2 separate regions of the Homo sapiens genome follow, and region 1 is linked to region 2. The links come from fine-mapping of genetic effects on gene expression. A gene starts in region 2. The other region holds a variant in brackets. All regions are shown on one strand. Distances are from middle to middle.

What was found. PIP is the estimated chance that this variant, and not a neighbour inherited with it, causes the effect.
Region 1: its variant is fine-mapped to the expression of CD207 in left ventricle (GTEx, PIP 0.98).

The regions. Positions count from the first base shown.
Region 1 is chr2:70,874,868-70,891,446 of GRCh38, forward strand. LINC01143 (long intergenic non-protein coding RNA 1143) reads left to right here and starts at 13,004. Exons shown (of 4, transcript NR_126384.1): 1 at 13,004-13,313; 2 at 13,419-13,481; 3 at 14,609-14,721; 4 at 14,954-15,117. RefSeq lists an enhancer at 12,861-13,511. The variant C/T (reference allele first, on the strand shown) is at 9,852.
Region 2 is chr2:70,831,296-70,847,810 of GRCh38, forward strand. It overlaps CD207 (CD207 molecule), which reads right to left and starts at 4,521. Exons shown (of 6, transcript NM_015717.5): 1 at 4,409-4,521; 2 at 4,196-4,312; 3 at 2,351-2,725; 4 at 1,605-1,756; 5 at 406-524. The coding sequence starts at 4,481. RefSeq lists an enhancer at 1-417.

The sequences.
Region 1 (16,579 bases), 44 kb after region 2:
CATTGGTAATTTCCAGAGATGTGGAAATTAGAGCAACAAAATATCCCTTGATGCCTAGCTGACTGGCAAAAACTCAAGAGTGGGAAAATACCAAGTTGACAGTGGAGGGGATGTGTGGATACACAAAACTACGTGCACATTGGTGAGTGTAGACTGGAGCAGCCATTCTGGACAGCAAGCTGACAATATTTAGGCAAGTTAGATGTTTCTAGTGACCCAGAAACTCTACTCCTGGTATAGATCCCAAAGATATTTTCCCACAGATGCTTAGGGAAACCTGTACAAGGAAGTTTGTTGTGGCTTTTTTTTTTTGAACAGGGTTTTGCTCTGTCGCCCAGGCTGGAGTGCAATGGCACCATCTTGGCTCACTGCAAGCTCCACCTCCTGGGCTCAAGTGATTCTCCTGCCTCTGCCTCCTGAGTAGCCAGGACTACAGGCACATACCACCACACCTGGCTAATTTTTGTATTTTTTGTAGAGATGGGGTTTCACCATGTTGCCCAGGCTGGTCTCAAACTCCTGAACTCAGGTGATTCACCTGCTTCGGCCTCCCAAAGTACTGGGATTACAGGCATGGGCCACCATGCCCAGCCTGTTATGGCATTATTTGAGGAGGCAGGGGAGTTATTGGAACCACCTAGATATCTAATCTTGGGAGAGCAGAGAAGTAAAATGAAGTGGTTGCACACCATGGAGAGTTATACAGCCATCTGAAGCAACAGAGATGGATCTTTAAAAATATAACATGGGGCCAGGCGTGGTGGCTCGTGCCTGTAATCCCAGCACTTTGGGAGGTCAAGGCAGGCAGATCACTTGAGGTCAGGAGTTCAAGATCAGCCTGGCCAACATGGTGAAACCCCGTCGCTACTGAAATACATAAATTAGCTGGGTGTAGTGTTGCACACCTGTAGTCCCAGCTACTTGGGAGGCTGAGGTGAGAGAATTGCTTGAACCCAAGTGGCAGAGGTTGCAGTGAGCTGAGATTGCACCACTGCACTCCAGTCTGGGTGACAGAGCAAGACTCCATCAAAAAAAAAAAAAAAAAATGGCCGAATAGGAAGAGCTACAGTCTGTAGCTCCCAGCATGATCGACACAGAAGATGGGTGATTTCTGCATTTCCAAGTGAGGTACCTGGTACATCTCATTGGGACTGGTTGGACAGTGGGTATAGCACTCGGAGGGCGAGCTGAAGCAGGGCGGCTCACCCAGGAAGCGCGAGGGGTCGGGGGATTTCCCTTTCCTAGCCAAGGGAAGCCATGACAAACTACCTGGAAAAACGGGACACTCTCACCCAAATACTGTGCTTTTCCCAAGGTCTTAGCAACTGGCAGATGAGGTGATTCTCTCCCGTGCCTGGCTTGGCAGATCCCATGCCCACGGAGTCTTGCTCACTGCTAGCGTGCAGTCTGAGATCCATCTGCGAGGTGGCAGCCTGGCTGGGGGAGGTGCATGCACCATTGCTGAGGCTTGAGTAGGTGAACAAAGCGGTCAGGAAGCTCAAACTTGGTGGAGACCACTGCAGCTCGACAAGGCCTACTGCTTCTAGACCCCACCTGCATGGACAGGGCATAGCTGAACAAAAGGCAGCAGACAACTTCTGCAGACTTAAATGTCCCTGTCTGACAGCTCTGAAGAGAGCAGTAGTTCTCCCAGCACGGCGCTTGAACTCTGAGAATGGACAGACTGCCTCCTCAAGTGGGTCCCTGACCCCCGTGTAGCCTAACTGGGAGACACCTCGCAGTAGGGACCAACACGCACCTCATATAGGCAGCTGCCTCTCTAGGACAAAGCTTCCAGAGGAAGGATCAGGCAGCAATATTTGCTGTTCTGCAATATTCACTGTTCTGGAGCCTCCGCTGGTGATACCCAGGCAAACAGGGTCTGCAGTGGAACTCCAGCAAACTCCAACAGACCTGCAGCTGAGGGACCTGACTGCTAGAAGGAAAACTAACAAACAGAAAGGAATAGCATCAACATCAACAAAAAGGTCATCTACACCAAAACCCCATCTCTAGGTCACCAACATCAAAGACCAAAGGTAGATAAAACAACAAAGATGGGGAGAAACCAGAGCAGAAAAGCTGAAAATTCTAAAAATCAGAGTGCCTCTTCTCCTCTAAAGAATTGCAGTTCCTTGCCAGCAACAGAGGCAAAGCTGGATGGAGAATGACTTTGACAAGTTGACAGAAGTAGGCTTCAGAAGGTCTGTAATAACAAACTTCTCCGAGATAAAGGAGGATGTTCGAACCCATTGCAAGGAAGCTAAAAACCTTGAAAAAAGATTAGACGAATGGCTAACTAGAATAAACAGTGTAGAGAAGACCATAATAGCCTGATGGAGCTGAAAACCATGGCACAAGAACTTTGTGATGCATGCACAAGTTTCAATAGCTGATTCAATCAAGTGGAAGAAAGGATATCAGTGATTGAAGATCAAATTAATTAAATAAAGCAAGAAGAGAAGTTTAGAGTAAAAAGGTAAAAAGAAACAAACAAAGCCTCCAAGAAATATGGGTCTATGTGAAAAGACCAAATCTACATTTGATTGGTGTACCTGAAAGTGATGAGGAGAATGGAACCAAGTTGGAAAACACTCTTCAGGATATTATCCAGGAGAACATCCCCAACTTAGCAAGGCAGACCAACATTCAAATTCAGGAAATACACAGAACACCAAAAAGATACTCCTCAAGAAGAGCAACCCCAAGACACATAATTGTCAGATTCACCAAGGTTGAAATGAAGGAAAAAGTGTTAAGGGCAGCCAGAGAGGAAGGTCGAGTTACCCAGAAAGGGAAGCCCATCAGACTAACAGCAGATCTCTCAGCAAAAACCTTACAAGCCAGAAGAGAGTGGGGGCCAATATTCAACATTATTAAAGAAAAGAATTTTCAACCAGAATTTCATATCCAGCCAAACTAAGCTTCATAAGTGAAGGAGAAATAAAATCCTTTACAGACAAGCAAATGCTGAGAGATTTTGTCACCACCAGACCTGCCTTACGAGAGCTCCTGAAGGAAGCACTAAGCATGGAAAGGAACAACTGGTACCAGCCACTGCAACAACATGCCAAATTGTAAAGACCATCAATGCTAGGAAGAAACTGAATCAACTAACAGGCAAAATAACCAGCTAACATCATAAAGACAGGATCAAATTCACACATAACAATATTGACCTTAAAAGTAAATGGGCTAAATGCCCCAGTTAAAGGACACAGACTGGCAAATTGGACAAAGAGTCAAGACCCATCAGTGTGCTGTATTCAAGAGACCCAGCTCACATGCAGAGACATACATAGGCTCAAAATAAAGGGATGGGGGAAGATCCACCAAGCAAATGTAAAGCAAAAGAAAAAAAAAAAAAAGCAGGGGTTGCAATCCTAGTCTCTGATAAAACAGATTTTAAACCAACAGAGATCAAAAGAGACAAAGAAGGTCATTACATAATGGTAAAGGGATCAATTCAACTGGAAGAGTTAACTATCCTAAATATATATGCAGCCAATACAGGAGCACCCAGATTCATAAAGCAAGTCCTTAGAGACCTACAAAGAGACTTAGACTCCCACACAATAATAACAGGAGACTTTAACACCCAACTGTCAATATTAGACAGATCAGTGACACAGAAGGTTAACAAGGATATCCAGGACCTGAACTCAGCTCTGCACCAGGCAGACCTAATAGACATCTACAGAGCTCTCCACCCCAAATCAACAGAATATACATTTTTCTCAGCACCACATCACACTTATTCTAAAATTGACCACATAATTGGAAGTAAAACACTCATCAGCAAACGTAAAAGAACAGAAATCACAACAAACTGTTTCTCAGACCACAGTGCAATCAAATTAGAACTCAGGATTCAGAAACTCACTCAAAACTGCACAACTACTTGGAAACTGAACAACTTGTTGCAGAATGACTAATGCATAAATAACGAAATGAAAGCAGAAATAAAGATGTTCTTTGAAACCAATGAGAACAATGACACAACGTACCAGAATCTCTGGGACACATTTAAAGCAGTGTGTAGAGGGAAATTTATAGCACTAAATGCCCACAAGAGAAAGCAGGAAAGTTCAAAAATCAACACCCTAGCAACACAACTAAAAGAACTAGAGAAGCAAGAGCAAACAAATTCAAAAGCTAGCAGAAGGCAAGAAATAACTAAGATCAGAGCAGAACTGAAAGAGATAGAGAGACAAAAAACCCTTAAGAAAATCAATAAATCCAGGAGCTGGTTTCTTGAAAAGATCAACAAAATTGATAGACCACTAGCAAGACTAACAAGAAAAGAGAGAAGAATCAAATAGATGCAGTAAAAAATGATAAAGGGGATATCACCACCAATCCCACAGAAATACAAACTACCATCAGAGAATACTATAAACACCTCTGTGCAAATAAACTAGGAAATCTAGAAGAAATGGATAAATTCCTGCACACATACACCCTCCCAAGACTAAACCAGGAAGAAGTTGAATCTCTGAACAGACCAATAACAGGCTCTGAAACTGAGGCAATAATTAATAGCCCACCACCCCAAAATAGTCCAGGACCAGATGGATTCACAGCCGAATTCTAACAGTGGTACAAAGAGGAGCTGGTACCATTCCTTCTGAAATTATTCCAATCAATAGAGAAAGAGGGAATCCTCCCTAACTCATTTTATGAGGCCAACATCATCCTGATACCAAAGCCTGGCAGAGACACAACAAAAAAAGAGAATTTTAGACCAATATCCCTGATGAACATCAATGCGAAAATCCTCAAGAAAATACTGGCAAACCGAATCCAGCAGCACATCAAAAAGCTTATCCACCATGATCAAGTCAGCTTCGTCCCTGGGATGCAAGGCTGGTTCAACATATGCAAATCAATAAATGTAGCAAGGCTGGTTCAACGTATGCAAATTAATGAACATAATCCGTCACATAAACAGAACCAATGACAAAAACCACTTGATTATCTCAATAGATGCAGAAAGGCCTTTGACAAAATTCAACAGTGCTTCATGCTAAAAACTCTCAATAAACTAGATGTTGATGGAACATATCTCAAAATAATAAGAGCTATTTATGACAAACTCACAGCCAATATCATACTGAATGGGCAAAAACTGGAAGCATTCCCTTTGAAAACAGGCACAAGACAAGGATGCCCTCTCTCACCACCCCTATTCAACATAGTGTTGGAAGTTCTGGCCAGGGCAATTAGGCAAGAGAAAGAAATAAAGGGTATTCAATTAGGAGAAGAGGAAGTCAAATTGTCCCTGTTTGCAGATGACATGATTGTATATTTAGAAAACTCCATCATCTCAGCCCAAAATCTCCTTAAGCTGATAAACAACTTCACCAAAGTCTCAGGATACAAAATCAATGTGCAAAAACCACAGGCATTCCTCTACACCATTAACAGACAAACAGAGAGCCAAATCATGAGTGAACTCCCATTCACAATTGCTGCAAAGAGAATAAAATTCCTAGGAATCCAACTTACAAGGGATGTGAAGGACCTCTTCAAGGAGAACTACAAACCACAGCTCAATGAAATAAAAGAGGACACAAACAAATGAAAGAATATTCCATGCTAATGGATAGGAAGAATCAATATCATGAAAATGGCCATACTACCCAAAGTAATTCATAGATTCAATGCCATCCCCATGAAGCTACAAATGACTTTCTTCAGGGAATTGGAAAAAACTGCTTTAAAGTTCTTATGGAACCAAAAAAGAGCCTGCATTGACAAGACAATCCTAAGCAAAAAGAACAAAGCTGGAGGCATCATGCTACCTGACTTTAAACTGCACTACAAGCCTACAGTAACCAAAACAGCACGGTACTGGTACCAAAACAGACATATAGACCAATGGAACAGAACAGAGCCCTTAGAAATAACACCACACATCTACAACTATTTGATCTTTGACAAAAACAAGAAATGGGGAAAGGATTCCCTATTTAATAAATGGTGCTGGGAAAACAGGTTAGCCATATGTAGAAAGCTGAAACTGGATCCCTTCCTTACACCTTACACAAAAATTAACTCAAGATGGAGTAAAGACTTAAATGTTAGACTTAAAATCATAAACACCCTAGAAGAAAACCTAGGCAATACCATTCAGGACATAGGCATGGGCAAGGACTTCATGACTAAAACACCAAAAGCAATGGCAACAAAAGCCAAAATAGACAAATGGGATCTGATTAAACTAAAGAGCTTCTGCACAGCAAAAGAAACTACCATCAGAGTGAACAGCCAACCTACAGAATGGGAGAAAATTTTTGCAATCTACCCATCTGACAAAGGGCTAATATCCAGAATCTACAAAGAACTCAAACAAATTTACAAGAAAAAAACAAACAATCCCATCAAAAAGTGGGCAAAGGACATGAACAGACACTTCTCAAAAGAAGACATCTATGCAACCAACAGACACATGAAAAAATGCTCGTCATCACTGGTCATTAGAGAAATGCAAATCAAAACCACAATGAGATACCATCTCATGCCAGTTAGAATGGCAATCATTAAAAAGTCAGGAAACAACAGATGCTGGAGAGGATGTGGAGAAATAGGAATGCTTTTATACTGTTGGTGGGAGTGTAAATTAGTTCAACCATTGTGGAAGACAGTGTGGCAATTCCTCAAGGATCTAGAACTAGAGTTACCATTTGACCCAGCGATCCCATTACTGAGTATATACCCAAAGGATTATAAATCATGCTGCTATAAAGACACATGCACACGTATGTTTATTGCAACACTATTCAACAGCAAAGACTTGGAACCAACCCAAATGTCCATCAATGATAGACTGGATTAAGAAAATGTGGCACATATACACCACAGAATACTATGCAGCCATAAAAAAAGGATGAGTTCATGTCCTTTGCAGGGACATGGATGAAGCTGGAAACCATCATTCTCAGCAAACTATCACAAGGACAGAAAACCAAACACTGCATTTTCTCACTCATAGGTGGGAATTGAACAACGAGATCACTTGGACACAGGGTGGGGAACATCACACACCGGGGCCTCTCAGGGGGTGGGGGGTTGGGGAAGGGATAGCATTAGAAGAAATACCTAATGTAAATGATGAGTTGATGGGTGCAGCAAACCAACATGGTACATGTATACCTATGTATCAAACCTGCATGTTATGCATATGTACCTAGAACTTAAAGTATAAAAAAGAAAAAAGAAGTGAAGCCTGAAGATGCGACTGAATTGCTGCAATCTCATGATAAAACTTGAATGAATGAGGAGTTGCTTCTTATGGTTGAGCAAAGAAAGTGGTTTCTTGAGATGGAATCTACTTCCAGTGAAGATGTTGTGAACATTATTTGCAATGGCAACAAAGGGTTTAGAATATTACATACACTTAGTTGATAAAGCAGCAGCAGAGTTTGAGAAAACTGATTCCAATTTTGAAAGAAGTTCTATCGTGGGTAAAATGCTGTCAAACAGCATCTCATGCTACAGAGAAATCTCTCATAAAAAAAAGAGTCAATTGATGTGGCAAAAAAAATACAATTTTTTATATATATATATAGTTGCTCTTCCCTTCCTGAAAATGTCATCCAAAAGCCATTAGGTAGGGCCAAGCAAGGTAAGCATCCCCATAAGGGAGAGTGTCTGCCATGGTGAATCCGCATGGGTGTGTTGGGATCCAAGCAGGGAGACATCCACACAGTGTCAGCATCAGATACCTCAGCCACAGTGGGGTGAGCAGAGTCTCCTCAGTGGGGGTGGGGCACAGAGAGGCAATGCAGCCACAGGAAACTCGTTACACACCAGGAAACTGATCAAATATACATACTGAGGAAAATAGGAGACAGATTTCTCACTGTTCGAGAAGGTAGCATAAATACAGAAAAGAAGAAAACTAGAAAAAGCTCTTCCAGCCTGGGCAATATAGGAGGACTCTGTCTCTACAAAAAATGGGAAATTAACTGGGCATGGTGGTGCACACCAGTAGTCCTGGCTCCTCAGGAGGCTGAGGTGAGAGGATCACTTGAGCCCAGGATTTCGAGGCTGCAGAGAGCTATGATTGCACCACTGCACTCCAACCTGTGCAACTAGAGGACTCTACCTTAAAAATATAAATAATAAATAATAAAACTCAATAATATAAAAACAAATAACCCAATGTGAAAAAGAGCAAAGGACATAAATAGATATTTCTTTACAGAAGATATACAAATGGCCAAGAAACACATGAAAAGATAGACAACATCATTAGTCATCAGGGAAATGCAAATAAGAACCACATTGAAATACAAAGTCACATCCACTAGGATGGCTATAATTGAAAAAACAGACAATAACAAGTGTTGCCAAGGATGTGGAACAATTGGAATTCTTATTCATTGCTAGGGGAAAATGTAAAATGGGACAGCCACTTTGGAAGACAGTGCGGTAGGTCCTCAAAAATTTAAAGATAGAATTAGTTGTTTGACCTAGCAATTCCACTCCTAGGTATGTACCCAAGAGATATGAAAATATATGGCCACCGAAAACTTCTCCAAGAACATTCACAGCAGGATGTATTCATAATAGCTAAACAGTGGAAACAACCCAAATGTCCATCAACTGACGAATAGATAAACTGTGGTATGTCCATACAATGGAATTATTCATCCATTAAAAATGAAGTACTGATTTATGCTACAATACGGATGAACCTTGAAAACATTATGGTAAGGGAAAGAAGTCAGTCACAAAAGACCATATATTGAACAATTCCATTTATATGATATGTTCAGAATAGGCAAATCTATAGAGACACAATGTAGATAGTTACCTAGGGCTGGCAGGGATGGGAGAATTGGGAGGTGAAAGCTAACAGGAATGGGATTTCTTTTGGGGATGATGAAAATGTTCTAAAATTGATTATAGGAGTGGTTGTACAACTCTGTGAATATACATATTAAAAAACATTACACAGTGTATTTTAAATAGGTGAAGTGTATGATACATGAATGATATCTCAATAAAGCTATTACCCCCAAAAAAGGACATTTGGGACAATTCACAAATTAAATAAATAATATAGTAACAAAATATAGCCTATTGAATACATTAGGAATCCATTTGTTGATATTGATCTAAACAATGCACAAAGAGCTTGATGAGGGGCAGGATATATAGATAGTCTAAAAGTTCCTCCCTGCAAAATACTTATTAAATGCAAAGGGAAAAATAACCTTACAGGGAGAAACTTAATTCTCACTCAAATGATCAAAGTTAACATCACCAGTACAGGATATATCAAAATCATGTACCATCTGATAGGACACAATGAGAAGAATTCAATATCACTTCTGTGATATTCCTGCCAAAGATGCATAGTCTGAATTGAATTGTGAGGAAACATGAGATAAATCCACACCGAGGGGCTTTCTACATAATAACTGGCCGTGAAAGTCAAAGACTGGAACTAACTGTCACAGATTGAAGGAGACTAAAGAGACGTGACAACTGACTGCAATACATCTTTACTGCATCCTTTTGATAATAAAGGACATTTGCAGAACCATTGACAAGGGGGTCTGAGGAGTCAATTGTGATAGCATTAATTTTCTAATTTTGATGATTGCATTGCGATTTCAAGGGAGAATGTCCTTGTTTGTTAGAAATACAAAATAAAGCATTATGTCAGCAACTTGAGTTCAAACAGGTAAGTGGAGGAGGGGGTTTCTTTGTAATGCTCTTGACAATTTCTCTGTAAGTTTCAGACTGTTCAAAATAAAACAAGGAACTCCAATATATACAATCTAACTAACTGGTCCATATTCTTCAAAAATATCTGTTACAAACATACACAAAAAAAG[C/T]TGATAAACTGTTTCCAGGTAAAGGAGGCTAACAAGAACTTAAAAACTAAATGCAATGGGTAATATTGAATTAAATCTGGGACCAGAAAAAAATAATAATATTATAAAGGATATTATTGGGACAATTGATGAAATTTGAATAAGATCTGAAGATTATATATCAATGTTAAGATTCCTAATTTTAATCACTGCAATGTGGCATGTAGGTGATGGCCCTCAGGAAATGCACGCGAAAGTATTTAATAGTAAAACGGCATGGTGTCTGCAACTTATCCTCAAATGCTTCCATAAAAATAATTTTAAAAGAGAATGATAATGCAATTGCAGCTTAAAGACAATACTAGAGTTTTGTAATATTCTTGCAACTTTCCCATAAATTTGAAATTGTTTTTAACAATTTTAAATAATATTTAAAATGAAATATAAAACTCAATACCATGTACATACAATAAAAACGCACACCAAAAAAAAGAGCTTATTTTGTGAGAATATATGACAACAAAGACTAACAGCAAATACAACCCAGTGGTTTGGAGGAGGGGGTTGTGAAATTCAGGGAGGAGAATGTGAGTGCGTGAGTGCTCAGTCTAAAAAGATTAAACACACAATTTTTTTTTTAAACGGAGCTTCACTCTTTTCGCCCAAGCTGGAGCGCAATGGTGCGATCTCGGCTCACTGCAACGTCCGCCTCCCGGGTTCAAGCGATTCTCCAGCCTCAGCCTCCGGAGTAGCTGGGATTACAGGCGCTAGCCACCACGCCCAGCTAATTTTTGTATTTTTAGTAGAAACGGGGTTTCACCATGTTGGCCAGGCTGGTGATCTCCTGACCTCAGGTGATCGGCCCACCTCGGCCCACCTCGGCCTCCCAAAGTGCTGGGATTACAGGCATGAGCCACCGTGCCCGGCCTAAATACACTATTTTTAAAACAGACTAGGGAGGGGAGCTGCCGAAACAATCCCCAAACTTCTCACTTCACACTTCTGAGGAATGAGATGGGGTAGAAGTAGGGACAAGCATGAAGGGAGGTGTCATGTTTTATCTTTATCTTTTGGCACTGTTTGAACTTTTATTATATAAAATACAACCACATAAACAAATATGTAATTTTTTAATACAGACAAAAAAATGATGGAACATCTATATAATGTTACCAAGACAGCTGCTAGGAATGAGATAGAGCTACTTCCATTAACATGTAAGAAAACTATGACCTATTTTTTTAAGGCAATTTGCAGAGTGGCAGGGAATATAAATCATTGTTGCAAAAAACATCTAAATAGTTCACATATGCAACGTAGTAACTATAAGCCATGCTACTTCTGCACAGAGGATTAAGGAAGGACTTGTAGACACTTGTCTGATTATTTTATGAGTTTGTGTTCACTTATAATCTTTAAATTAATCTTATGTGAATATATTCTTATTAAAAAATCAAATAATATATGTATTGCTTTTATGATTTAAAATACATATTACTGTGGTTTAGAGAAGAAATTGTTTCTTAAAGGACAATTCCTATTTCTTTCTTCAGCCTCAAGAGTCAGAAAGCAAGACAATTAGTATTTTTAAATAAGGAAATGTAAACTAGTTTTCAGTAAAACATAATTTACAACAATAATGATTATGTAATCATGCCTCTATTAATACAGCAACCGTTTAAAATAATGCAAATGCACAATAACCAGGCTGTCTGTTTCCAATTTCCTTGGACTGGATGGCGAGAATCCCACTTTCCTGGACTTTTCCACCCACATTTATGATCCCTCGCAGCGTATAACCACTACGTACCTCTCCAAACCCAACAAACTTTGCAGCCTGCGCAGACAAAGGTTTCTATGTTTCTCTCTCCATTTCTACTTGGCAAACCCCTGCCTGGGGCTGTACTCGGGAGTCACCTTCACTTCCTTGCTAAGTCAGGTGAAGCCTTACCTGACTTTCTCCAGGCTGGGGAAAGAACCCCCACACCCCTCACCCACTCCCCGGCTCCCATTGCCTCTTCTTTCCTCTCCCTACCGTGCTGCCCACTTTGCGCGGTAATTTTTGCTCCAAGGGCCTGCCTCCCAGAGGCTTGGGGTGCAGGGAAAGTGCTCTAAGGGTGGGACTGATTTAGTCTGGACATTCCTGACCGGTAGCACCACGCCCATAATGACCCGAAAATAAATGCCTGCGTAAATTGCTTTGGGAAGCGGTTGGGCAATTTATTAAGAGTAGTGAAAATGTCCCCTTCCTGCTGAAACAGTAAGAATCTTGAAGAAATAATCCTCCCCAAAGGAGAAAACTATATACACGAAGATTTTAGGTTGTGTATTATTTTCATACAGAAAAACTGGACACGGAAGAATATCAAGTAATTGAACGGTTAAGTAAATTACACAGTAACATAATAGAGCATTACTCGGCCATTGAAAAGTATACTTATGAGGATCATAGCACATAGCAAATACTGAAGTGTGGCCTCAAGTAGAAAAGACTGAATACAAAACTACATGTTCACCAGGACTAACATTATGCAAAATAAAGATGCACATTTAAAAAAAAAAAAAAAAAAGACTGAGTCTTTTAGGGGTAGCACGGGGATATTTTTCCTGCTTTCAATTCTATTATTGCTGTTCTAGCCATGCGAACAGTGCACAGAGGTTGGAAGTGGCGTCAAGAGGAGTCTTACCATTGTGTATATGACTGTAAAACTGAGAAAAAGAAGGTAATATCAGCCTGGGGAATGCATTTCTAATGGCGGGACTTCCTGCACCTTGACCTGCCAGTCGGGGTTGTGGCCCGGCAGTGGCATTCCCAGGGGGTCTCAGAACAAAACGACGGCCACAGAGTCCACCTGGACAAAAGGGCAGGGAAGGGGCCCCTCGCCCTTGACCCTTGGGCTCTGCTCCGGCCACCCTGAGCCGAAGGCTGTTTGGGTGAATGCGTGGGGTTTCTCCGGCGATCGATCCCTTTGGACTGGCTTCCCCACTAGCAACCTGCGCGTCCCCACCAGAACCAGCCGGCTGGCCGAGCGAAAGCCCGGTTTCGGGAGACCTTGCGGGGAGAGCAGCTGGCCCTCGCCCACCGGGCCGCGCTTTGTCTAGGGCGCGAGTCCGCCCGTTTCCGGCCCCGCCCCTCGCCCTGGTCCCAGTCCGCCCCTCCCCCTACCCGGCTTCCGCGTCTCCGCTCCCGCGCTGCCGGCTTCCGCGGCTTCCCCCACTTCTCAGCCTGCTTCTCTCTCCCCTCTCCTTCCTTTCCTGTCCTTTCACACTCGCGCCCCAGCCCCCGTCACCATCTACCCCAAGGACTTGCAAACTTCGCCCCTGAGGAGCGGACTCTTCGGTTCTCCGTGGAAAATCAACCAGACCCAAAACAGAGGTCCCGGGTTTGGGGATACCACGCCGCGCGCCTGAGCATCCGGGCTCCATTTCTCCAGGCGACATCTGCGGGAAGGGAGACCTAAAGGCCAAGGCTGGGGACGAGAGGCAGGTGCCTGGAGTAGTGGACGGTGGAAATGGCGACGGCGGCCTGCACCCAGCGATCCCGAAAGTGCCCATGTATCCGTCCATCTGGGTTTTTTTTTTTCTTAGATCATCCACCAAGGCCGGGGTTTCCGAGTGAGGCGCCCACTTCGCATCCCACAGTACCGCCAGGTGTGTTTCCCATGAGCTCTTTAAGAGAGAACCCAAGAGCTCTTTAAGAGAGAACCCAAATAATGTGTGAATACCTTCTCCAATAACTTCAAGTCAGAGGCTCAGACACACACACACACACACACACACACACCCCTAAAACATATTTATTTCGTGGAAGAGCGTGTATCCCTCGGCTGTCCTTCCAGCTCTCCCTTGGTGCGTGTGCAGGACGCACAGAAGGGTGGAGTGTGGGTTGCGATTATTTTTACACAGAAGGTGTCACACTCTGGGATCTGTTCCGCAGGGAGGCCACAGGTGCCAGGAGACGCGGGAGAGACTGGCTCCTGCCAAGAACATTTCTTTGCATTGTTCAGTGCGGTTTTTTATTTTTATTTTTGACTGTTTGTTTGCCTAAGAGATGACTTCCCTTGCCAGAAAAAAAAAAGTGTTGTAAAAATAAAAGGAAACGGGATTACGATGTAAAAGACGAATAGATAAACCCGGTTCCGCAGATCTGCGGCGCGCGCGCCTGGCGACCTCGGATACATTCATTGAAGTTGCCGCGCACTCGTACCCGGGTTCACCTCGCCCCTCGCTCATTCCTCCCGACCAAGGCCCATGGTCAGAGGTGTCCTCGCCCCGCGGCCGTCAGAGGGCGCGGCCTACACTCGAATGCCGGCCGAGCCCTCCACGCGCTCGGAACTTGGGCTTCCCGGTGCAGCCTCCCCGCGATCGCAATGCCCGCTGCCTTTCCCGAGCCCAGTCCGGAACCCGCCTCTCTCGGGGACCTTGACCTCGCGCGGACCTCGTCGCCTTGCTTAGCTCTCCCTGACCTGCTTTTGAACCCGCTAATCCCGTCCCGAACTCTCGCCCCGCGGCAATCCCTCGCCCCGGCCCTGGCGCGCTAATTCCCGCTGACCCCGCCGCCCCGCCGCCTCTCTCCGCTCGCGCGGCTGTGACCAGGATAAGGGCTTCCCGCCTCTGAGTGCAGGTGTGATCTGGAGCTCAGGCAACTACTGCCCCCGCATTGTCCCCAGCCCGCGCTCGCACCCCCAGGACCCAAGCAAAGCGTCTCTTGCCTCAAACATTCTGCCCTTCTCTTGCTTCCTCTTGTTTCCCTAGCATAATTCATGTCTTTCTTTAAGAAACCCATCGGACCCACAAAGATCAAAATCTTCGGTAACACACCAAACTGGCGACGCTGTGGGGAAGCAAGCACTCTCCCAAGTGGCTGGCGCGCAGTGAGGGCGCAGGAAAGGTAAGCAGGAGACCCGCCGCTAGGAGCCAGAGCCAGGCCGGCGAGGCGGGCAGGCAGGAAGAACCGCGGACAGGGCGACTTGATCTCATTTTTAAAACCGGAGAGTGAGATGGGACGAGAGCTTGAGCTTCTAGGGATGGGGCTGAGATTCTGGAGAGACACCTGGTAGTCATTTCTTAATCTTTTGTGCTGCTTAGAATTTTTTCTTAGATGCATGTTTTCCTTTTAAAAGAAAAAGAAAAAAAAGAAAAGGCAGAGCGGGGTGGCTCACACCTGTAATCCCAACAGTTTAGGAGACCAAGGAGGGAGAAGCCCTAGCGGCCAGGAGTTCCAGATCAGCCTGGGCAACATAACGAGACCCTCGTCTCTGCAAAAAAATAAAAAATAAAAAATTAGGCGAGTGTGGTGGTGCCTGCCTGTTGTCCTAGCTACTCAGGAGGTTGAGGCAGGAGGATAGCTTGTGCTTAGGAGTAGAAGGTTGTAGTGAGCCGTGATCGTGTCACTGCAACCAGCATGGGCGACAGAGTGAGACCTTGTCTCTTAAAAAAAAAATAGTAAAAGTCATTATTTTAAAAGTTGATGAAATTAGTTCACACTACACACATTTACAAACACAGGTCACACACACACACAAACACCTCCAAGGCAAGGGTCTGCACATTTGTTTGGGGTTGTTTTGTTTTGTTTTGTAAGCAAACTGAACCCAACACAAAGCACTGTACTCCCCTTCTTGGTGTTTATTACAGGACCATGGAGGCTTAGTAAAAAGCATTTATTTAAGGGGAGTTATTTTCAGAGGCTGTTTTCTAGCCAGGAAAAAAAAAAATCGGATACTTAGACTTATCCCCTGGTATGTGCAACATGTAAACAACCAGGTAGCATGCTTCTCCCACCCCCAAAGATCAAACTCCAGGGTTCCAGCCTTGGCCCTGTATCAGTCTGACTGCCCCTGGAAGGTTGGCCATCTCCAGTGATATAGGCTACATGACCGACTATTCGAGTCTGTTTGGCTCACAGCTGTCCCCTAGTGCCTGGCATATTTTAGGAACTCAATAAACATTTGTTAGATGACAAATATTTCAAAGAATGTGCAACAGCTCCTGGAGAACTGTTTCCAGTAGATATAAATTCCTAGCAGCATCTTGGGGTAAGAGGACGGGCCCCCGAGGCTGCCACCTCTAGAGGGCCTTGGATAGTGGCCAGTGCCTTCCCACACAGGCCCAACAGTCACCCAAAACAGGCTGTCATTCAGCTCCTCACCCTTGCATTTTGAAAGTCCTCTCCCAGGGTCAAGAGATAGAGAATTCCTCTAGCCTGGTCCCACCCAGGCCAGTGGCTCCTAGAGACTCAGTCCCTAGGTAACCCCTCCTATTCACCATGGACAATAGGCCACTCAGCAGACAGGCCTTGGATGCTTGTTGGGACCCACCTGAGCCCGAGAGCAGAGCTTCTGGCTCACATGGTGAAGGGGAAACCAGAGAGAGGGTGACCTAGGAAGAGGTGCCAGAGATGCCTGGCTCCTGATTGCCAAGGTCAGTCTGGAACCCGCTTGCAGGTGACACAGATCACTGATCGCAAATGATTATTGCTTGAGGCAACAGGGCCCTAAACCTGAGGGTTTCCTAGCACTGGGGACATGGGAGACAGGTGGTTAGTGACCTTGAATGTACAGTGTTCTGGCTTGCACAGAAGGCATGGCAAAGACAAAAAGGACAAAAAGATGAAAAGGAGACCTGCCTACTTTGTAGTGACTAGTGGCAAAGACGAAAAGAAGACCTGCCTAAGTGGTAAGTCACTGTAGGCAACCTCTCTGAGGCACAGTCAGGAAGGAAAGGTGAGCCACTGCCCTTGATGGAAA
Region 2 (16,515 bases):
GTCCTAGGGAATGGCATAGCAAATGTCTGCACCCAAGCCTCAGAGGAAGGGGACTGGTGAGACTTCGACCTCTAAGCTTTCACATGCCCCAAGTCCAGGCCAAACCAACCCACCACTTTCAAGTCCCTACACAAACCCACACTGTGAAGACCTAGACTCATGACAAGATCCCTGAAGCTGGCCAGGTAGAAGGCCTTGTTGCCAAACCCCAGAGGGCGTGGAGGGCTCAGGTCCACAGCCAGTTGGTGACAGGGTTGTGCTCGATCTTGGTTGCAATGTTCCTGTCACTCTAAGACAGGGAAGAATCAGAAACCCTGTCTCATGGGGAACATCGCCCCCACTCCCTTCATGCCCTGGCCATGGCCGGGGAAAGTCAGGCTGGCACGGAGGGCTCCAGGGGCTTACCTCACACTTTGGACCTTGTTGAATGGCGTGTCATCCACCCAGGACCAGTCCCCTTCCATCCCTGCTTTAGTCAGGCCAATCCAGTAGATGAGTCCCCCCGCTGTTTTATACAGAAACTCCTGTAGGAAAGACAGGATAAGCAGAGGTGCGGCCACACTTGGAGCTTGATCATCTGTCTCTGGGTGTTCTTCACCTGCGCTCAGTGACAGCCCTGACCCACAGATGCGCTGCACAAACTGGCCTCTCAAGCTTCTTCCTGCCCTTGCCCAGAGCCCAGATTTCATCTTCCAGATTATGATGTGTCCCTGCTCTGCAGCTAACAAGCTCAGGACTCAAGCCTTTCTGCCACTCAGGAAGCAGGTGCTGAAGCACAGGAAGGCCTCAGCTGAACTCCAGAGCACGGACCGCAAGAGAATGGTTCATATGATAATACCTGAATTAAATGAGCCCTGAATCCACATACGGCACTGTGCTGAGTCGTCCATATGCATTCTCTCCTTTCCTCTGAGGCAGGTGCCATCACCATGCATGTTTCATCAAGTGAGGGCCAGTGAAGTTTGCCCAGTGAAGTTGGGTATTCCACCCAAGCTGCTAGGACTAGTTAGATGGCAAGGTTCAGGCTCTAGAACTACGCCAGAGCCCAGGCTCTGACCTGCTCTGCTATCCCACCTCCCAGATGAAAAGGGCCTGCCCAATTTCTGCCTCACCAGGCAGGAGACTTCTTGAGTCATGTGGAATCATTAAGGCTGTTCACAAATATTTCTTTTTTTCTGGGCACATGGAAAGTAGATCCTCTCTGCCCTGTTCCAGGAGTACTGGAATCCAGGATCCTCCCAATCCAGGAGTACTGCATAACTTACTTAACTTAATTAACATAACTTAAGCTAGTGAAATGTAAGCAAAAATGAGGTATGTTAAATCTGGGCAGAAGCTTTGCACAATATGTCAAGTTCCCCTTTCCTGCCCCAGCAATTGTGGAGACATATTAAGATGAAGACTCCTTGGGCCTGGGTCCTTGAGTAGCCACAGTGAGCACAGCCCCCTTGCCGGCCCTTATTCGACATGCTACTGAGAACCAATCCTTCTTCATTAGGTCATCAATATTTGGGGATTTTTGTTCACGCAGTATAATCTTGCCCATCCTCCCTGGCCCAGTGCTCATACGCCCCCTTCACAGAGCCCATAGGCACAGCACTCACCTGCTCACTCTCTGAGGTCACCGAGGTCAGGTGTGAATTCCTGGACACACAGAACTGCTCGGCACTATACCAGGTCTTTGGAATGAGAGAAAAGTAATAGAAGTTCCCCTTGAAGTACTTCCAGCCTTGAGAAACCACCTGTAGAATATCATCTAGAGAACAAGAGGTAAAAGTGAACGCTGGTATTCTTGATTTCTTGGGATGCTGGCTTGGTGGGGGCACTTGAATGAGGTCTCAGAGACAGCAGCAAATGGAGCTGTGCGCTGGTGTCCTTGGGTCCTTGTATAGGAGATTAGGGACACTCTTTCAAATCCTGAAAGTCAGACAGAGACTAATAGAGTCTCTGGGACTGGAGAGGTTATAATGCAAGAGGTTGGACAAAGAGTGTCTTCCCCATGATGAGGAAGCAACCCTCCATCGGCCATGACAAGTGGCTGAGCCCCTGGACTCTAGAAAGGAACTTGATGGGAAATGACTAGGTGTGGGCCAGGGTGGACATCCCCTAATGCTTTTACATTCTGCACTTTTGTGTGGGAGCTCTAGCTGGACCCTGGTCTCTTTTCTCCTAACAGCCCCTAAGTCCTCCCCAACCTCAAGCCCTCTCTCCTTAACTTCCTAGCCCATGGCTGCCCCTCTTTTGCCCCCACTCTCCTCCCCAACCCACCAGCCCAATGGCCTCAGGTCTGGGACAGGTAAGATCCCATGGGCCACTGGTCAGCTTCAATGTAATTTTCTGAGTCACTTACTTTGTCGTTTGAGCAACTTGCTCATATTCTCCAAGCTGCCCTGGAGTGCCCGGATCTTTGTATTTAAAGCACTGGCTTTCTCCAAATCACTTTTTAACTCTGGGATTTGGGCATTTAAGGTACTGACTTCTTCCCAACTTCTTGTTAAGATCTGGATCTGTGCGTTGGCCTTCTCCACACTGGTTTTTAACTTCAGGAACTGAGAACGCACATAACCCAGGCTCTCATTCACCATCTGGATCTGAACGCCAGCTGCCTCCATGCCGTCACTATTCTTTTTAATTTCAGAATCCAGGGTGCTGATGTTGTCCACACGACCTTTCAGCAACTGGACATTGGTCTTTACATCTGATATGGTGCCCATAAACCGGGGATCTGGGATTGAGAAAGTCAGGAGGTCAGCTGAGGGGAGTCCCAGGGACAGGAGTGGGGGTGTTGTCAGGTTGATCAAAGGAAGGGAAGGAATAGGCTGAAGCTTCCCAAAGAACCAAGACAGTCCAATGGGCCACCCCAACCCTCCAATCATTCATTAACGTACAACAAACGTGCAATGGGCACCTACCATGTGCCAGGAACACAGGTGGATACAGATAATGGGGAGATTGATAAAACACAGGCTCTCTGTGAAAAGATTTCACAGGCAAGCAGAAGCAGGAGTTAGAAACCATTCCTGAATTTTCTGAGTGTTCAGGGAACATTTGATAAAGGGTGCCCTCCATGAGCCCCACCACTGTCCCCAGAACTTGATTCCCCCTAGACCCCACCCCTTGGTTGCCATCCCTCTGTTTTCAGAAACCCCTGCAGTGGCCATCTGCTAGGACAGCACCACTCCCCCACATCTGTCCATGGGCCCCTCTGTGACCATGGGAAGAACCAGCCACTAATCTGGAAGTGGCTTCTCCAGAGAACATGGAAGAGGAGATTACAAAACTGTTTCTCCCCTTCCCTTGCCCCACCCACTTTCACATTCTGCTCAGGTCCCAGGCCTGGGTACCAGAGAGAGGATCAAAGATAAACCAAGAGGCTCAAAGGCGAGCCCTGAGGAAAATGCGATGTTAGAGGCCAGGGGTCTAGGATGGGGCAAGGGGGACTCTGCTCAGAGCCTACAAGTCTAAGCCCAAATATGTCCCGAGGCCACAGAGGGAGAAAAAAAAACCCAACAGCTTCTTGGGTCCCTTTGCTCTGCTTCCTGGAGCCCTGGCAGGAGGAAGAAGGCTCTGCCAGCAGCAAAGGCCATGAAGCCTGACAGAGCCAGAAAAGGAAGAAAGATAAACCATGCAACATCAAATGAGCAGGAAGCCTCCCTAGATGTGATCTTCACAGGGACAGGAGAATGAAGACAGCACCAACGAGTCCTGGGGAGAGGGGACTGAGTCATGGAGATCTGTTGGCTCGTTGGCCAGGCTCTCCATCTGGTGAGCTGGGGCCAATGATACATGAGGCTCGGTCCTTCACAGGGTCAGGAGACATTGCACTGTCAAGGACTGTCCACAAGGCTCTAGATCCAAGGAGCAGAGCTCAGATTGGTGGGGGGTGGACGGGGAGAAAATAGCACAGGATGTAAAACTAGATCAATGTTTCCTGAGGACAAAAGAATGTATCCTTGAGCACCAATGTGCAAATGCTAATCCCAATAATCTCCCAGAAATTGGGAGGGAAAGAGCATCAGCTCACCGTACTGGGGGCAGCACAGCCTGTTACTGCACATGGAAAGAGGAGGAAGGAGACAAATGAAAAAGCCACAGGCAGGAGAAACCCGGAGAGCAGGGAAGTGGTCTCGATCTGAAGGGAGCCGGCTGGCCACAGAGAGGGGCTAAGCCCAGACGATGAAACATGAGGACTTACAAAGGACGGCCTGCAGCAGGACGGAGGCGACCAGGACCAGCGTCAGGCAGATTAATGCAGCACGGACTGTGGGTGTTTTCCCCGGGACCAGAGATGGACCGGACTTGGGAGGAGGCTCTGTTGGAAGAAGAAGAAAATGTGTGTTGAAGGAGCAGCAAAGGGCAGGTTTGCACACAGAACACGGAGCAGGTTCTCAGCAGCGATGTGGCTTGCCTCGGGGCCAGAGGGAGATGTTCTGTTTGTCCACAGTGAAGTGCGCATCAGGGGCCTCCTTCTCCACAGTCATCCTGAGTGCTCACCCTTATCCTGGGAGCACAGGTGCTTCTGGCTGCCTGTCTCTCCAAGGGCTCTTATCTAGAGGAAACAGGAAGTCAGTCCCACAGCAGGTCACCATATCATCCCAACTTCCCTATTCCTGACTAGATACCTTGTCTGGCTTACTCCCATCCTCAGAAGTCTGAGCTTTCAGGAAGAGGCCATTTGTTGTCTTCTCTGGGGGTCTGTTACATGGATACATTAACCATCTTGTCCCAAACCTATCCCATTTCTCTTGTAAGACTCTCGTCATCCATCCACCCATCCATTCACCCCACAAATACAGGCTGAGTGCCTTCTAGGTACTGATGCTCTACCAGGCATAGGGCCACAGTGATGAATAACTCGCAGTCCTTGCACCAAGCAGCTCATAGTCTGGTAGGAAAGACAGACATGAGCAAATAAATTGCAAGGTGATGAGCACAAGAGACAAATATGCCCAGTTCAAAGAAGCATATGAAATGGAGTAATGGGAAAAAAAAAAATCCAGTAGAAAGATAAGCATATGCCAAAGGATGGAGCATAAGATAGCATGGAGTGCTTGGCAAATTGTAAATAGTTGCAATATTGCTGGAATGTAAAATATACATTCCAACAGGAAGGGGATGCACACGGGGTTGAAGAGGCACCTGGGGTCTGATGATGAAGATCCTTCTGATCATGTCAAGGAGCTGGACCTCTGGCTTGTGGGTGACATGGGGCCAATTAAGGACTTCAGGCAGGAGAGAGACAAGGACAGGGACACTGTAGAAACATCACTCTGATCCTGGTGAGGAGCAGACTGGTGGGGAGAAGCCTGGAAGCAGAGATACCAAATAGGCAACCATTGCAATAGAATATCCTGCTTCCTGTTATTAATGCATCTTGGCTGATACAATATCCCTTTATAATATGCAACTTGGAGATTCAAAGTGTAAACCTAAGACTTGGGTTCTCCTCCCTGCTTCCTGCACCATGTGAGATTTTCAAAAAAAGTAGGGGCGCTCAGCAACCTCAGACTAGGAATCGTTCTGTTTCTCTCTCCTCTCTCTCTGTCCGCACCTCCTCTCTCCTTCTTTGTAGTCCTAAATAGAGAGTTCCATATGTGCAAGAAGCTCAGGGCACAGAAGAGCTGATTTGGGCTCAATGAAGGACTAAATTTTCTCCTGGGCGGCTTCTCATGCTTTGAAGAAGTCTGCCAAATCTGAGAAATTTGGCACATGGCAGACTCTAGACAAATATTTCTTGGAATATAGGAAAGAGGAGAGGAAAGAGGGAGGGAAGGAAAGAAAAAAGAAGGAAATTGGTCCAGATAATTGGAGGATGGGTGAATGGATGAATGGATGGATAGAGGATGCATGGATGGATGTGTGAATGGTAAGTGACTTGGAGACTTGATAGCTGATCATGCCACTCAGACATTTACACAGTCTGGGGCCTGGGATCTGCCTTCTAGAAGCTGCTGCTTTTTTCCACTGTCTCCAGAAGTTCTCATTCATCTTCAATGCAAAAGCATAAGGGGAAGTGTGATTTACTCCTTACCCAGGAATGAACAAAAGCTCTGGCCGCAGGAAAAGAAAGCTGTCCTGGGCCTGCTGAGGCTGAGCCAGTGGAGCTGGATGACAGCCTGTATCAGGGACCAGGATTAGAGGTTAAGTTAACAGGGCCAAGGAAATATCTACCTATGCTTTCAGGGGCTACTGCCACCTTTGGTACTTGGGAGGATAGTGGCTGCACGCTCAGCCCATGCCTATGTGCAGCTCATTGTAGTTACAGGCCCTTGATGCTCTCTCTCCAGCTAACCGGGCCTCAGGCTGGAGTGGCTTCTCGGACTGGATGAGGGAACCCAGAGAGGACCCCACACTGGGAAGCTCTGGGAAGGAAACTGGGTAGCAAAGATGGTGTCTCATTTGTTCTGTCCCATCGCTTCCCTACCCAGCCTGTCTGTAACTTCCAGGCCTGCTGTCTGCTCTAAATTTTAACATTTGATAGTCCCGAATATGAGGGCCTGGCTCCACATCACTGCCTGCCTCTGGGTGTCCATGAAGATTCCTACTCTCTTCAGGTGGCTCGTGTGGTTGCAGAGCCTTGGTTCCATCAGGGCTTAGACAGGATTAGAATGTTCCACTTCTGGACTCTCATGCTTGGGACCCAGCCTAACTCCAGAATCATCTCTGCCCTTCTGCTCCTGGCTCCTGGCCCTTCATCCATAGCCTGTCCTATTTCTGGGCCTGGGGATAGAGAAGAATCCAAATTACTCAAGACCCTGGTAGAAGGGGCCTTGCAGGGGTCCATGTCTCCTCCTGAGGCATTTGCGGGAAAGAAGCCGCCACACAGTGTGCCTGGGAAGTGTCTTGTCCATTTCCGCTCGGTCAGGAAGTTGGGTTTTCTCTGCTGGTTTGTGGTATGAGTTATACTTTATAGAGCCCCCCAGATGCCCTCTCATTGGTCCCAGGAAAGGATGAGGAAGCCTTAGCGGCTGGGCCCATGGCATAGGAAGGGGCTGGAGCAGGGAGCATTTACTCCAAGTGATGGAAATGCAGGCTGAGGTAGGTAGAATAGCTACCGCTAGGCGAAAGGCTGTTCCAGCATGAGGAAGCTGAGCAAAGGCATGGAATCCTGGGCTGTGGGCCTTCTGGGGTTTCAGAGGAGGTGGATGTAAAAGTCCCAAACCATAGGAAGTTTCATTTCCCACTTTGTGGAGAGGGAGGGAGTCAGAAGCCATCTTCCTATTATCATGCTCATCTACAGGTCTTTCCTGAGCACCTCTCCTGTGCAAACCTCTGGATGCTCTATCTGGCACCTGGCCTGGCAGGAGAAAAGACAGAGAAGCAGGCAGGTGCCTTGGCCACACTTTCCAGTCAGGAAGGTGGGCAGTTCTCCCGGGCACTCAGACAATGCCCTGCTCTTCCAAACAGAAGAGGAACTCTGGCCAGACCTAGTGACCAAAAAAATCACCGCTGTGATGAGAACGGGAAGTCTGTGCTCATTTTTTTAGTTTCTCCTCTTCCTGTGTTCCTGGGGTTCTAATATTTTCTCTGGATAAGGATGGAGGAAGAAAACAGCTTGGTCACTTTTTCCCTTTCTCTGGTTGAGACTATGGTTGGGCCCAGCCTTATGCTTGGAGGAGAACCATGGGTTTAATCAACAAGACTGGAACAGAGACCTGGGTTGTATGAAATGCTCCAGCAGTGCCAAGAGTCATCTCCAGGGAGGAGTCACCCAAGTCCCTCAGTCAAGTCATGGAGGAAAGTAGAGTGAACACCAAATTGCGGAGTGGGGACAGGGAAGGAGAAGAGAGGGAGGAGGGGAGAATGACTCTGAAATGAGAGGAGATTACAGCTGGTCACACCTGGCTTACATAGGGACTCCTGTGATGTGATGCGGGATTTGGCCCACAGCCTCCAAAAAATCAAGGGATTCCATGCCACCCTCCGGACATGCGCCCTGGGCACAGGGGATAGGGCAGAGAAACCAAGGAGCATAGGTGGCACCATTCACTCCTCTAGTCCTGCTGTGCACTAGGTACCAGGACACAGCAAGGAAAAAGACAACCACAGACCCTGCCCTCAGGAATGGTTTTCCTATTGTTGAAAAAATATGACATCCTTAATGCTGGGGAGAAGGGAAGGCTCTCCCGAGACTAAAAATGACTGACGACACTATAGGGGCCTTCCCAGGTCTCCTTGGACCCTGATAACGGGTTCCTCTTTTATGACATTATATGAGGACAGGTCTCTTTGGAACAGTGACAATAAGCCAGACCCTACTGATCAGGGTATTTCACCCAGTGCCATCATAAATAGTGTGATATGTAAATAGGCTGGCAACCTAGCCACATGGAAGAGCTGCTGTGTACCCGGCAGAGGAGGCTGCCCCAGACTACGTCATAAGTCAAAGAACTCATGCCTATAGCCTCAGTGGGAAGGGCAAATCTATGTCAGGAAAGTAATGAAAGGCTTTTGGGAAAAAAAATGTGCATAGTTTCTTTTTAAATCTTTTATTTATTATATAATTAATGATAATTAATTATAGAAAAAAATCCAAGTAAGAAAAAAACCCACCATAGGCTGGGTGCAGTGGCTCATGTCTGTAATCCCAGCACTTTGGGAGGCCAAGGTGGGTGGATCACCTGGGGTCAGGAGGTTGAGACCAGCCTGCCCAACATAAGTGAAACTCGTCTCTACTAAAAATACAAAAATCAGCCAGGCATGGTGGTGGGTGCCTGTAGTCCCAGCTACTCGGGCGGCTGAGGCGGGAGAATCACTTGAACCTGGAAGGTGGAGATTGCAGTGAGCTGAGATTGTGCCACCGCACTCCAGCCTGGGTGATAGAGTGAGACTCTGTTTCAAAACAAAACAAAACACAACAAAACCATCGTAGAGAAAACAAATGTTGTACCCATAGTTCAGTCTTCCTAACCACCCACGTGTATATGTATACACATCTATATCTATAGCCATAGCTGTGTCTAATCATAACTATGCATATATTATATACATATTCACAACACAATTCCTGCTTATTTTCCCTAGCATCCTTCCCCACCTCTCCTGCCTTTCTTTTTTGTTTTTTTGTTTTGTTTTCTTTTGTTTGAGATAGAGTCTCACTCTGTTGCCCAGGCCGGAGTGCAGTGGCGTGATCTCGGCTCACTACAACCTCCGCCTCCAGGGTTCAAGCAATTCTCCTGCCTCACCCTCCTGAGTAGCTGGGACTACAGGCGTCTGCCACCACATCCGGCTAATTTTTTGTATTTTTAGTAGAGACGGGGTTTCACCGTGTTAACCAGGATGGTCTCAATCTCCTGACCTTGTGATCCACCTGCCTTGGCCTCCCAAAGTGCTGGGATTACAGGCGTGAGCCACTGCGCCCAACCTCTCCTGCATTTCTGATACCAAAAATCCCCCTCCATTGGGAAATTTTTTCAGTTTGTGATTCAAATGGGGCTGCTGATCCTAGATACCCGCAGGTGTAGGAGTGACAACTTGCAATGATGGGTGCCCAGGGTTTGGGTAGGAAGGTAGCTCTCCTCTCTCCCTAAACTGAGGGACCTAAAGATATGACTATAGGGCAGCTAGTAACCAGTTCCTCTGTCATGTGGAAGACCCCAGTAGAATAAGACCAGCACAGAGACAGAAGCTGTAACAAAAAATGAAGAGACAGAAAGTGAGTCCTGGTGCCTTTGAGTGCTGGATCCTGTTGAACTTGAGTTCCATTCCCCACAGACACTGTGTTTCTTGGTTTGGTTATGTGAACACAAAAATGAAAATCTCTTATTTTCATTTGAATTTAATTGGATGAGTTTCTGTTTCTTGCAACCAAAGAGTCCTGTCCAATGCGTTATGTAAGCATATACATTTTTTTTTACAAAACTAGACTTATACCCTATAGTGTGTAAGTTTTTTTTGTGTAATAATATATTATGGATAACCTTAAAATCAAACTTACATCTGCATAATAACTTTTATTTTTATTTCATGCTCTATTGTAACTTCATTTTCACTTTTTATATTTGATACATTTGGATTTCATGATTTTCCATTTTTTTCTTATCTCTTATGGTTTTGTTCAAGTATTCCATGATTTTAGAAAGGAATCTAACTTATCCATTTCTAAATGGGTAGCCTGCTGTCCAGATACCATTTTTTAAAACCATGCATAATTTTATCTCTGATTATGAAGTACCATCTTCATCATGTGTTTCATAATATGTTTGAGTTTGTTTCATATCTTTAAAGGTCTGTTTCTGGACTTTCTGTTGTGTTCCATTTGTCTTTCTATTGATATAACAAAACTCTACAATATTAATTAGTATAGCTTTATAATAAAGGCCCTATCTCCAGACACAGTCATATTGAGGATTAGGGATTCAACATGTAAATGAACAGAAAACACAATTCAATCCATAACAGAGCTCATAGAACAGACTAGCAGAAAAATATAACCCGTAATAAGGATAAAAACCAATCTACTGAAACGAACCCAGAAATGATACAGATGTTAGAATTTCCAGACAAGGACATTACAATAGACATTATAACTGTGTTTCTTGTGTTCAAACAGTTAAATAGAGACATGAAACATTTAATAGATACAAATTGAACTTATAATGACTGAAAAAACTACAATGCCTGGTATGAAAAATACACTGAAAGGGATTAATGGCAGGTTATAAATTGTAGAAGAAAAGATCAATGAAGTTGAAGATATGCCAATAGAAACTATGCAAAATGAAGCTCAGAGAGAAAAAATAACAGAACATCAGGAAGTCTGAGACAACTTCATGCAATTTAATATACGTGGATTTGAAGTCCTCAAAGCGGGTGGAGAGGGACAGAAAACATATTCAAAGAAACAATGGTCAAAATGTTTCCAAGTTTAAGAGCTATTTATTTATATAATAACATGGATGGGTCCATTCCAAGATGGCCAAATAGGAACAGCTCCGGTCTGCAGCTCCCAGCGTGATCGACATAGAAGAAGGGTGATTTCCGCATTTTCAACTGAGGTACCTGGTTCATCTCATTGGGACTGGTTGGACAGTGGGTGCAGCCCACAGAGGGCGAGCCAAAGCAGGGTGGAGTGTCACTTCACCCAGGAAGCACAGGGGTTGGGGGATTTCCCTTTCCTAGCCAAGGGAAGCCATGACAGACGGTACCTGGAAAATCGGTACACTCCTGCCCAAATACTGCTTTTCCTACGGTCTTAGCAACCAGCAGACCAGGAGGTTCTCTCCTGTGCCTGGCTCAGAGGGCCCCACACCCACGGAGCCTTGCTCACTGCTAGCACAGCAGTCTGAGATCGACCTGCGAGGCTGCAGCCTGGCTGGGGGAGGGGCATACACCATTGCTGAGGCTTGAGTAGGTAAACAAAATGGTCAGGAAGCTCAAACTGGGCACAGCCCACCACAGCTCAGCAAGACCTACTGCCTCTACAGGCTCCACCTCTGTGGGCAGGGCATAGCTAAACAAAAGGCAGCAGACAACTTCCGCAGACTTAAACATCCCTATCTAACAGCTCTGAAGAGAGCAGTGGTTCTCCCAGCACAGCGCTTGAGCTCTGAGAACAGACAGACTGCCTCCTCAAGTGAGTCCCTGACCCCCGTGTAGCCTAACTGGGAGACACCTCCCAGTAGGGGCAGACAGACACCTCATATAGACGGGTGACCCTCTGGGATGAAGCTTTCAGAGGAAGGATTAGGCAGCAATATTTGCTGTTCTGCAGCCTCTGCTGGTGATACCCAGACAAACAGGGTCTGGAGTGGACCTCCAGCAAACTCCAGCAGACCTGCACTGACTGTTAGGAGGAAAACTAACAAACAGAAAGGAATAGCATCAACATCAACATCAACAAAAAGGACATCCACACCAAAACCAAGCCAACATCAAAGACCAAAGGTAGATAAAACCACGAAGATGGGGAGAAACCAGAGCAGAAAAGCTGAAAATTCTAAAGAACAGAGCACCTCTTCTCCTCCAAAGGATCGCAGCTCCTCGCCAGCAACAGAACAAAACTGGGTGGAAAATGACTTTGACGAGTTGACAGAAGTAGGCTTCAGAAGGTCGATAATAACAAACTTCTCTGAGTTAAAGGAGCATGAGCTAACCCATTGCAAGGAAGCTAGAAACCTTGAAAAAAGGTTAGACGAATGGCTAACTAGAATAAACAGTGTAGAGAAGACCTTAAATGACCTGATGGAGCTGAAAACCATGGCACGAGAACTTCGTAACACATGCACAAACTTCAATAGCTGATTCGATCAAGTGGAAGAAAGGATATCCGTGATTGAAGATCAAATTAATGAAATAAAGCGAGAAGACAAGATTAGAGAAAAAAAGAGTAAAAAGAAACAAACAAAGCCTACAAGAAATATGGGACTATGTGAAAAGACCAAATCTACGTTTGATTGGTGTACCTGAAAGTGATGGGGAGAATGGAACCAAGTTGGAAAACACTCTTCAGGATATTATCCAGGAGAACTTCCCCAACCTAGCAAGGCAGACCAACATTCAAATTCAGGAAATACAGAGAACACCACAAAGATACTCCTCAAGAAGAGCAACGCCAAGACACATAATTGTCAGATTCACCAAAGTTTAAATGAAGGAAAAAATGTTAAGGCCAGCCAGAGAGAAAAGTCGAGTTACCGAGAAAGGGAAGCCCATCAGACTAACAGCGGATCTCTCAGCAGAAACCCTACAAGCCAGAAGAGAGTGGGGGCCAATATTCAACATTCTTAAAGAAAAGAATTTTTAACCCAGAATTTCATATCCAGCCAAACTAAGCTTCATAAGTGAAGGAGAAATAAAATCCTTTACAGACAAGCAAATGCTGAGAGATTTTGTCACCACCAGGCCTGCCTTACAAGAGCTCCTGAAGGAAGCACTAAACATGGAGAGGAACAACTGGTACCAGCCACTGCAAAAACATGCCAAATTGTAAAGACCATTGATGCTATGAAGAAACTGCATCAATTAATGGGCAAAATAACCAGCTAACATCATAATGACAGGATCAAATTCACACATAACAATTATTAACCTTAAATGTAAATGGGCTAAATGTCCCAATTAAAAGACAAAGACTGGCAAATTGGATAAAGAGTCAAGACCCATCAGTGTGCTGTATTCAGGATACCCATCTCACGTGCAGAGACACACATAGGCTCAAAGTAAAGGGATGGAGGAAGATCTACCAAGCAAATGGAAAGCAAAAAAAAGCAAGAGTTGCAATCCTGATAAATAAATCTCTGATAAAACAGACTCTAAACCAACAAAGATCAAAAGAGACAAAGAAGGCCATTACATAATGGTAAAGGAATCAATTCAACAAGAAGAGCTAACTATCCTAAATATATATGCAGCCAATACAGCAGCACCCAGATTCATAAAGCAAGTCCTTAGAGACCTACAAAGAAACTTAGACTCCCACACAGTAATAATAGGAGACTTTAACACCTCACTGTCAATATTAGACAGATCAACAAGACAGAAGGTTAACAAGGATATCCAGGACTTGAACTTGGCTTTGCACCAAGCAGACCTAATAGATAGCTACAGAACTCTCCACCCCAAATCGACAGAATATACATTCTTCTCAGCACCACATCGCACTTATTCTAAAATTGACCACATAATTGGAAGTAAAGCACTCCTCAGCAAATGTAAAAGAACAGAAATCACAACAAACTGGCTCTCAGACTACAGTGCAATCAAATTAGAAATCAGGATTAAGAAACTCACTCAAAACCACACGACTACATGGAAACTGAACAACTTGCTCCTGAATGACTACTGGGCAAATAACAAAATGAAGGCAAAAATAAAGATGTTCTTTGAAACTAATGAGAACAAAGACACAACATACCAGAATCTCTGGAACACATTTAAAGCAGTATGTAGGGGGAAATTTATAGCACTAAATGCCCACAAGAGAAAGCAGAAAAGATCAAAAATCGACACCCTAACATCACAATTAAAAGAACTAGAAAAGCAAGAGCAAACATATTCAAAAGCTAGCAGAAGGCAAGAAATAACTAAGATCAGAGCAGAACTAAAAGAGATAGAGACACAAGAAACCCTTCAAAAAATGAATGAATCCAGAAGCTGGTTTTTTGAAAAGATCAACAAAATTGATAGACCACTAGCAAGACTAATAAAGAAGAAAAGAGAGATGAATCAAATAGATGCAATAAAAAATGATAAAGGGGATATCACCACCGATCCCACAGGAATACAAACTACCATCAGAGAATACTATAAACACCTCTATGCAAATAAACTAGAAAATCTAGAAGAAATGGATAAATTTCTGGACACATACACCCTCCCAAGACTAAACCAGGAAGAAGTGAATCCCTGAATAGACAGGCTCTGAAATTGAGGCAATAATTAATGGCCTACCAAACAAAAAAAGTCCAGGACCAGATGGATTCACAGCCGAATTCTACCAGAGGTGCAAAGAGGAGCTGGTACCATTCCTTCTGAAACTATTCCAATCAACAGAAAAAGAGGGAATCCTCCCTAACTCATTTTATGAGGCCAACATCATCCTGATACCAAAGCCTGGCAGAGACACAACAAAAAAAGAGAATTTTAGACCAATATCCCTTATGAACATCGATGCGAAAATCCTCAATAAAATACTGGCAAACCGAATCCAGCAGCACATCAAAAAGCTTATCCACCATGATCAAGTCGGCTTCATCCCTAGGATGCAAGGCTGGTTCAACATACTCAAATCAATAAACGTAATCCATCACATAAACAGAACCAATGACAAAAACCACGTTATTATCTCAATAGATGCAGAAAAGGCCTTTGACAAAATTCAACAGCGCTTCATGCTAAAAACTGTCAATAAACTAGGTGTTGATGGAATGTATCTCAAAATAATAAGCGCTATTTATGACAAACCCACAGCCAATATCATACTGAATGGGCAAAAACTGGAAGCATTCCCTTTGAAAGCAGGCACAAGACAAGGATGCCCTCTCTCACCACTCCTATTCAACATAGTGTTGGAAGTTCTGGCCAGGGCAATCAGGCAAGAGAAAGAAATAAAGGGTATTCAATTAGGAAAAGAGGAAGTCAAATTGTCCCTGTTTGCAGATGACATGATTGTATATTTAGAAAACCCCATTGTCTCAGCACAAAATCTTCTTAAGCTGATAAGCAACTTCAGAAAAGTCTCAGGATACAAAATCAATGTGCAAAAATCACAAGCATTCCTATACACTAATAACAGACAGAGAGCCAAATCATGAGTGAATTCCCATTCACAATTGCTACAAAGAGAATAAAATACCAAGGAGTCCAACTTACAAGGGATGTGAAGGACCTCTTCAAGGAGAACTACAAACCACTGCTCAATGAAATAAAAGAGGACACAAACAAATCGAAGAACATTCCATGCTCATGAATAGGAAGAATCAATATTGTGAAAATGGCCATACTGCCCAAAGTAATTTATAGATTCAATGCCATCACCATCAAGCTACCAATGACTTTCTTCGCAGAAGTGGAAAAAACTACTTTAAAGTTCATGTGGAACCAAAAAAAGAGCCCGCATAGCCAAGACAATCCTAAGCCAAAGGAACAAAGCTGGAGGCATCACGCTACCTAACTTCAAACTATACTACAAGGCTACAGTAACCAAAACAGCATGGTACTGGTACCAAAACAGATATATAGACCAATGGAACAGAGCAGAGGCCTCAGAAATAACACCACACATCTACAACCATCTGATCTTTGACAAACCTAACAAAAACAAGCAATGGGGAAAGGATTCCCTATTTAATAAGTGGTGCTGGGAAAACTGGCTAGCCATATGTAGAAAGCTGAAACTGGATCCCTTCCTTACACCTTATACAAAAATTAATTCAAGATGGAGTAAAGACTTAAATGTAAGACCTAAAACCATAAAAACCCTAGAAGAAAACCTAGGCAATCCGTTTCAGGACATAGGCATGGGCAAAGACTTCATGACTAAAACACCAAAAGCAATGGCAACAAAAGCCAAAATAGACAAATGGGATCTAATTAAACTAAAGAGCTTCTGCACAGCAAAAGAAACTACCATCAGAGTGAACAGGCAAATTACAGCATGGGAGAAAACTTTTGCAATCTACCCATCTAACAAAGGGCTAATATCCAGAATCTACAAAGAACTTAAACAAATTTACAAGAAAAAAAACCCCATAAAAAGTGGGCAAAGGATACGAACAGACACTTCTCAAAAGAAGACATTTATGCAGCCAACAGACATATGAAAAAATGCTCATCATCATTGGCCATCAGAGAAATGCAAATCAAAACCACAACAAGATACCATCTCCCGCCAGTTAGAATGGCAATCATTAAAAAGTCAGGAAACAACAGATGCTGGAGAGGATGTGGAGGAATAGGAACCCTTCTACACTGTTAGTGGGAGTGTAAATTAGTTCAACCATTGTGGAAGACAGTGTGGTGATTCCTCAAGGATCTAGAACTAGAAATACCATTTGATCCAGCGATCCCATTACT